Homo sapiens: one gene and its partner. The protein of the gene in region 2 interacts with the protein of the main gene of each other region in a biochemical or structural test. Each region holds a gene or a part of one and is shown on either strand. Other genes may lie near its edges.

The links. Proteins that work in one complex are often made in the same cells at the same time.
Region 1: the proteins of UBE2G1 (region 2) and TRIM63 form a complex in vitro, tested with the Homo sapiens proteins (one study listed by BioGRID).

The regions. Positions count from the first base shown.
Region 1 is NC_000001.11:26,053,958-26,057,707, forward strand, and holds part of TRIM63 (E3 ubiquitin-protein ligase TRIM63), read right to left. Parts: intron 3,694-3,750; coding exon 3,671-3,693; intron 3,371-3,670; coding exon 3,246-3,370; intron 8-3,245; coding exon 1-7. UniProt on the Homo sapiens protein: E3 ubiquitin ligase. Mediates the ubiquitination and subsequent proteasomal degradation of CKM, GMEB1 and HIBADH.
Region 2 is NC_000017.11:4,289,937-4,293,686, reverse strand, and holds part of UBE2G1 (ubiquitin-conjugating enzyme E2 G1), read left to right. Parts: intron 1-3,750. UniProt on the Homo sapiens protein: Accepts ubiquitin from the E1 complex and catalyzes its covalent attachment to other proteins. In vitro catalyzes 'Lys-48'-, as well as 'Lys-63'-linked polyubiquitination. May be involved in degradation of muscle-specific proteins.

The DNA.
Region 1 (3,750 bases), on a different chromosome or scaffold from region 2:
TCCTCATCTGTGACAAAAAAACATTTGTGTTAGGATGGGGCCGGTTCCTTGAGGAGCTACTTGAAGAGGAACCAGGCAAGAGAGAGCACGGTCTAAACCCCTTCCTGTGCCCAGTCGGGTCAAACGGCCACACAGCGGCGGCAGTGGTCTGGGAGGGGATGGGCTTGCCAGACCCACGCTGCACAGAGGCCCTGCTCCTGCAATCCCCCGCACTCCGTCCCAGGGAGCTGGGCTCAAGTCACTTCCTTGCTCCAGCAACAGCAGCTTCTATCACCTGCTCGCCTGTGACCAGAGAGGGGACTCTGAGGAAGCGCACTCTGTGCTTCTGCACATCTCTCGGGTAGGCAGATAAACATTGCCTGAGGAGGAAAAACCTCCTCGATCCTCAGGGATCAGAGTCCTTGTCTTGAAGGAAGCTACTTAGCCTATGAGATCTGCTTGTTCAGCAGCCACTGTCCCATTTTCCTCATTCCTTAGCCTGTGGAGGGGAGGGGTGGACATGATGGGGAAGCACTTCTGGAGCCACCTCTGCTCCCTGAAGCTGAGCACCAGAGGGACAGTGACTGAGCTGCAACTCATGTCCCCACTTTTTTATCCTGAGATGTCACCGTCAAGCTTTAACAGGGAACATCTCCCTTCCCCGCTCCTCTCCCAAGCTACCTCCTTAACCTTTTGGGGCCCTGAAGGGGTCACCACAGAATCAGAACATTTGTCAAGAGTATCTTCAGGCCAGGCTTGGTCGCTCACACCTGTAATCCCAGCACTTTGGGAGGCTGAGGCGGTCAGATCACCTGAGGTCAGGAGTTCAAGACCTGCCTGGCCAACATGGTAAAACCCTGTCTCTACTAAAAATACAAAAAATTAGCTGGGTGTGGTGGCATGCACCTGTAATCCCAGCTACTTGGGAGGCTGAGGCAGGAGAATCTCTTGAACCCAGGAGGCAAACGTTGCAGTGAGCTGAGATCACACCATTGCACTCCAACCTGGGCGACAAGAGCAAAACTCCGTCTCAAAAAAAAAAAAAAAAAATAGTATCTCCAAAATGACAACCAAAATTCCAGCCAAGTAACTGATATCAGAGTATAACCCAGGGAGTTCTGTTGTTTAATCATTGTCACAATGACTACATTTAATAGCAGTTGCTGAGTACTTACTATGTGCCAAGTAGTGTGCTCAGTGTTGAATCTGCATCGTCTTATAAAATCCTCACAAGAGTTTTGCAAGCCAAATGGCCCTCAGTAGAATCTGCACAGGCTACTTGCCAGCTGTGTGGCCTTGAACAAGTGGCTTACCCTCTCTGAGCTTTAAGTTCCCTCAACTACAAAATAGAGATGGTAACAGAACCTATCCCATGAAGTTGTGTTAAATGATAAAACTTATGTTAAGGGCTTAGCGCCTAGGACATACAGAATATTCAGTAACTGGTGACTGTTGGTACTCTCCTCATTTTACTTGTGGAGAAACTGAGGCTCAGGGAGATTAGGAAGGCCAGTGCAGGACTTCACAATGTTATGTTCACACCGTATGACCCACTCTTGAATATCTATTTCTTTCTTTTTTTTTTTTTTTTGAGATGGAGTTTCACTCCTGTTGCCCAGGCTGGAGTGCAATGGCGTGATCACAGCTCACTGCAACCTCCTCCTCCCGGATTCAAGCAATTCTGCTGCTTCAGCCTCCCGAGTTAGCTGGGATTACAGGCATGCACCACCATGCCCAGCTAATTTTGTATTTTTAGTAGAGACGGGGTTTCTCCGTGTTGGTCAGGCTGGTCTGGAACTCCTGACCTCAGGTGATCCACCTGCCTTGGACCCCCAAAGTGCTGAGATTACAGACGTGAGTCACTGTGCCTGGCTGACCCACTCTTGAATATCTTAGCTTAGGGAAGCTGACAGTGGAGCAGCTCACTACAGCAGTGGATGTCCCCAAGGCCATTGGTGTCTCTGCTTTGGGATGTATTTTGTCCTTACCTATGAATGGGGTATATCTGGGGCTCTGAAAACAGACTTAGCACCAGCTACTGAAGGTTTGTAGGAGAGCGACACAGGAGGTGCCAAGAAGCTCTTCTCTTTCTCACGCCAGCCATTTACAGTTCTTCCTTGTTCCTTCATCATCCCCTTGTCCCCCAACCTCAGCTGGTCATTGGAGCACCACCTCTCAGACCAACGCAACAGTCAGCAATGTGGGATCTGCCCTCTCTTTCTCTGTTGCCTTTTAGCTGTGTTTCCCTTTTAGCTGTGTGACCTTTAGCAAATTAACATATTTGCTTCCATTCAGTTTCTTCATTTCCTTTGTTATTTTCACCCTTATTATTGTTACGGTTGCATTGTTACAATTATTATAGGCACTCTATGGAAGAGTAATTATAAACAGAAATGAGGACATGATGTTGATCAATTAAGGTGCCTGGGTATCATAGGTGATAGCATTAAGAAACTGAAGCTAAGACTACCTTTAGGCAATAACTAGTACATCTTTAGGGCTCTACAGGACCTTTCTGCATTGATATCTGATTTTTTGCAACAGCACCATGAGTTGGTCATTATTAGAGGGCTCACTTCTAACCTGACTTTTTAAATTAGAAAATAAAACTCAGGCAGAAGGGGGCTTGCCAAAGGTCACACAGATAAACAAATGACAGAACCAGGATTTAAACTCAGGACTGTCTGATTCCAGAGGGCATATTATTTCTACTGCCCCAAGAGGCCTCCCTGCCATGGATCCATATGTAATTTATGAAGCAGGAATTCTGCACCAGGCACTGTGCTAGGCTCTGGGCTCATCTAGAAATCGACTATATGAATTTTTTTTTTTTTTTTTTTGAGATGGAGTTTGGCTGGCTCTTTTGCCCAGGCTGGAGTGCAGTGGCACAATCTCGGCTCACTGCAACCTCTACCTCCTGGATTCAAGTGATTCTCCTGCCTCAGCTTCCCAAGTAGCTGGAATTACAGGCACATGCCATCACGCCTGGCTAATTTTTGTATTTTTAGTAGAGATGAGGTTTCACCACGTTGGTCAGGCTGGTCTCAAACTCCTGACCTCAAGTGATCCGCCCACCTTGGCCTCCCAAAGTGCTGGGATTACAGGCATGAGCCACCACAGCCGGCCAGAAGTTGGCTATATGAGTTTGATTGATATTTGGGGATCTTTATTAGTGTATCTGCCTCCCCATCGGGCTCAGTTGGAGGGATGCTGGTTTCCAGGGGTCAGGCAGGCAAATAGACAAGTGGCATCACCACCTCCTTTACCTGTCCCAAAGTCAATGGCTCTCAGGGCGTCTGCTATGTGCTCTAAATCCAAAGTAAAGAAGTCCATGTTCTCAAAGCCCTGCTCTGTCTTCCCCAGCTGGCAGCCCTTGGAAGCTTCCACAATGCTGCAGGGGAGACAGAAAGAGAGGCAGGATGAGGTCTCTGGGGCTCAGTGCAGGGAAGAGAGGGCACATGCTTTGCCACGCCCAGGCCTTCTACCCAGAGGCTCCCCTGGAGGGATGGAGTATTTCCTCTCCAACCTCAAGCACAAGGAGTGGTCCAAAAAGTCAGGGATGCAAAGGGTCAGGGAAGCCAGCCTAGAGTGAGACCCTCCCAGCAGGCCTAATGCCCAGGATGAGGCTTCCTGGACAGAGGTCCTGGTGGGAACTAGGTGCTTGGATCATAGCCTCTAGGAAGACACTGACCTTTTGATGAGTTGCTTGGCAGTCTGCAGGGGGAGAGAGAACAAAGGATTAGGACCGCAGAAGAGGTAACCGCAGGAAAT
Region 2 (3,750 bases):
TAATAACAAATGTCAATGAGGAAGTAGAGAAATTAGAACTCCCATGCACTACTGGCAAGAAGGTAAATGGTGCGGGTGTTTGGAGAAGAGCCTGGCAGTCCTCAAAAGGTTAAGCATAGTTACCATAGGACCCTGCACTTCCATCCTAGGAACCTAACCAAGAAAACTGAAACACATGTCCAGAAAAACTCGAACACGAGTGTTCACAGCAGCATTTATTATTCATAACAGCCAAAAAGTAGAAACAGCCCAAATGTCTATCAGCTGATAAATAGAAAAACAAAATGTGGACCCATATAACGGAATATTATTTGGCAATAAAAAGAAATGAATTACATGATATTGTTTTCTAAAGAAAAGAAAGAAATGAAGTAGTGATACTTGCTACAACATAGATGAACCTTGGAAACATTATATTAAGTGAACAAAGTCAGTCGTAAAAGGTGACATAGTGTACGATTCCCTTTATATGAAATGTCAAGAATAGACAAATCCATAGAGACCGAAAGTAGGTTAGTGGTTCCCTACTGCTGGAGGGGAGGTGGGGGGGATTGAGGAATGGTTGCTAACTGGTACTGCGTTTCATTGTAGGGTGAAAAAATACTCTAAAATTGATTGTGGTATTGATTGTACAACTCTGTAGACATACTAGACAGAAACCATTAAATCGTGCTTTTCAAATAGGTGAATTGTATAGTAGGTGAGTTATAGAGATGTTATAAAATTATTATAGGGGAATAGTTTTATGTGACTGACCTTACATATATTCAGCTTTTCTTGAGGTATACTTGCTACACCCAGTTAGATAATTAGTTAAACCAGTCCAGGGTTCAGCAATGAGCTTAAGGGCCTTGGAAGTTACTGTATCAGGATGATAGATAACATGATAATGAATGGGTTAGTTTTCCTACGGAAAATATAGTTAATGTTGGAGATTAGGATAACATCAAAAGTCAAATTAAGGAAAATGAAAACTAGAAAGTGACTGAGAGAATGTTCAAGAACCAGGGGAAAACAAGAGTACCACAGATGCCAGGGGAGGAAAATGTATCCAGCAAAGTGTTGTCACAGTATTAGTTGTCTTGGCCCAGAGGGGTGACTTCAGGTAGCTGAAAGTACCCAGGAGAATAAATATGCTATCCAGACCACTTGTGGACACAGTTGTAGCATCCTGCTAGGGAGAAGCCAGTTTCTAGGAGAATAAAGGAATACCTGAGTAGTAAGTAAATAGAGAAGATGAGGGTAAATCAGTTTTTCAGAATTTTAGGTGCATGGCCTCAAGAAAAAGGAGGTAGCTAGAAGTATATGCATTGTTTAGGCAGCTTAGTTTTGTTTGTTTGGTTTTGGTTTGGGTTTTTTTTTTTTTTTTTTTGAGACAGAGTCTCACTCTGTCGCCCAGGCTGGAGTGCAGTGGCTCACTGCAACCTCCGCCTCCCAGGTTCAAGCAATTCACCTGCCTCAGCCTCCCGAGTAGCTGGGATTACAGGTGCGTGCCACCAAGCCCGGCTAATTCTTGTATTTTTATTAGAGATGGGTTCACCATGTTGGCCAGGCTGGTCTCGACCTCAGGTGATCCGCCCGCCTCAGCCTCCCAAAGTGCTGGGATTACAGGCCAGCCATACATTACAGTGGGCCGAGCCACTGTGCCCGGCCCAGGTAGCTTAGTTTCATCTCTAATGAACACTGAAATGAAAGAAAAAAGTAACAAGCAAAAATTATATGGGGAAAACTAAGAAACACCGTGGCAAGAGGAAAGTAAACATTAAGTACATAACTGGCTAAAGGATAAGAACAGACATTTCACAAAAGAGGAAGGACATACAGGTTATATCCATGGAAAGTTGTCACCCCAAAAGCATTTAGAAAAGTGAATTAAACCAGATGTTATATATGAAATTTAAACAGCATCAATAAAGGAAAATGTTCATCCTGAGGAGGCAATGAAATGGCCATCTCAGATTGCTGATGGCAGTATAAATTGATACAATCCTTTAAAATATGGTTTGATAATAGGTATTAAGCCTAAAAATCTTCTCATTCTAAAATAAATGGTATGTTTAAAATGACATGAGAAGGTTAAAAATGTAAAGATCCTGGATTAGTGATAACTTGATTTTTTTTAAAAAGGAAAATGGATCTTATATAGTGGTGGTAGAATTCTGTACACATATTTAATAGCATGTTTTTAAAGAAAAATGACTTGGAAAAAATCCTTATTACACAGTAAGTACAGAAAACATTGTAAAATAGTAATACTCTATGAAATTTTTATGCTGAATTTTGTAGTGTTACAAGTTTTGATGTTATTCCTTTTTTTTTTTTTTTTTTGAGATGGAGTTTCGCCCGTTGCCCAGGCTAGACTGCAGTGGTGTGATGTTGGCTCATGGCAACCTCTGCCTCCCGGCTTCAAGCAATTCTCCTGCCCCAGCCTCCCAAGTAGCTGGGATTACAGGCATGTGCCACAACAGCCAGCTAATTTTGTATTTTTAGTAGAGATGGGATTTCTCCATGTTGGCCAGGCTGGCCTCAAACTCCTGACCGCAGGTGATCTGCCCTCCTCGGCCTCCCAAACTGTTGGGATTACAGGCGTGAGCCACCACGCCCGGCCCTCGGTGTTATTCTGGCCCTGATTCTATTTTAGTAAATAGATTTTACTAGCAGATAGGGATGGGTTGGGAAGAGGAACCTTAATTATAGAAAACCTCATACATAAAACATTGAAGGCACGGGCCTTGCCTGTCATATATTCACTGCTGTACTTCTCTGTCAGATGTGTGCCTGGCATGCAGTAGGCATTGAAAAAGTATTTGTCGGCCAGCGCAGGGGCTGTTTCCTGTAATCCCAGTTTGGGACCAGCCTGGGCAATATAGTAAGACTATATCTCTACCAAAAAAAAAAAAAAAAAAAGCCAGGAATGGTGCCATGTGCCTATGGTCCCAACTACTTGGGAGGCTGAGGTGGGAGGATCACTAGAGCCCAGGAGTTTGAGACCAGCCTGGGCAACATAGTGAGACCCCCATCTCTACCAAAAAAAAAAAAAAAGTCAGGTTAGCCAGGCATCATGCCATGTGCCCATGGTCCCAGCTACTTGGAGGGCTGAGGCAGGAGGATCGTTTGAGCCTGGGAGGTCAAGGCTGCATAGAGCTGTGATCATACCACTACACTCCAGCCTGGGTGACAAAGTGAGGCCCTGTCTCAAAAAACCAAAACAGCAACAACAGACAACACCAAAAAATAAGAATTTGTTGAATTAAGAGAGCAATGATATTGATTGGTAGATACAAACTTTGATTCTGATTACCCAGAGTTCATAACAGCAGAAATACTGATGTTATGAAACGAAAAATAAGATTTAGCATTATATTTATTCACAAATTTGTTAGACTATATAGGATAAGTTAGGAATGAAATATACATAAACATTGTCACTACTCAAATTCCTTTCTAAAATTTCTTCCTCAAAGTATGATTTTTAAAAAAATTTACGGTGGGTAAATGTTACCATAAAAGATTAGTTTCACAATAGGGATTATTTATATGATGTATAAATGAATTAGTGGATTAGGACCTTTTTTTAATGAATAAGTAATATTTTACTTTTTTGCTAAACTGCTTAAATAGTTATGTCAATACATGTCTCCTAAAAATAAGGATGTTTTCTTATTAAATGTGTTTATAGAAAGGAGGCCTCTTGAGTGTCGTATATGTTGATGAGTTTTCATTGGCAGTATGGCATGTTTGTTTTGTGAA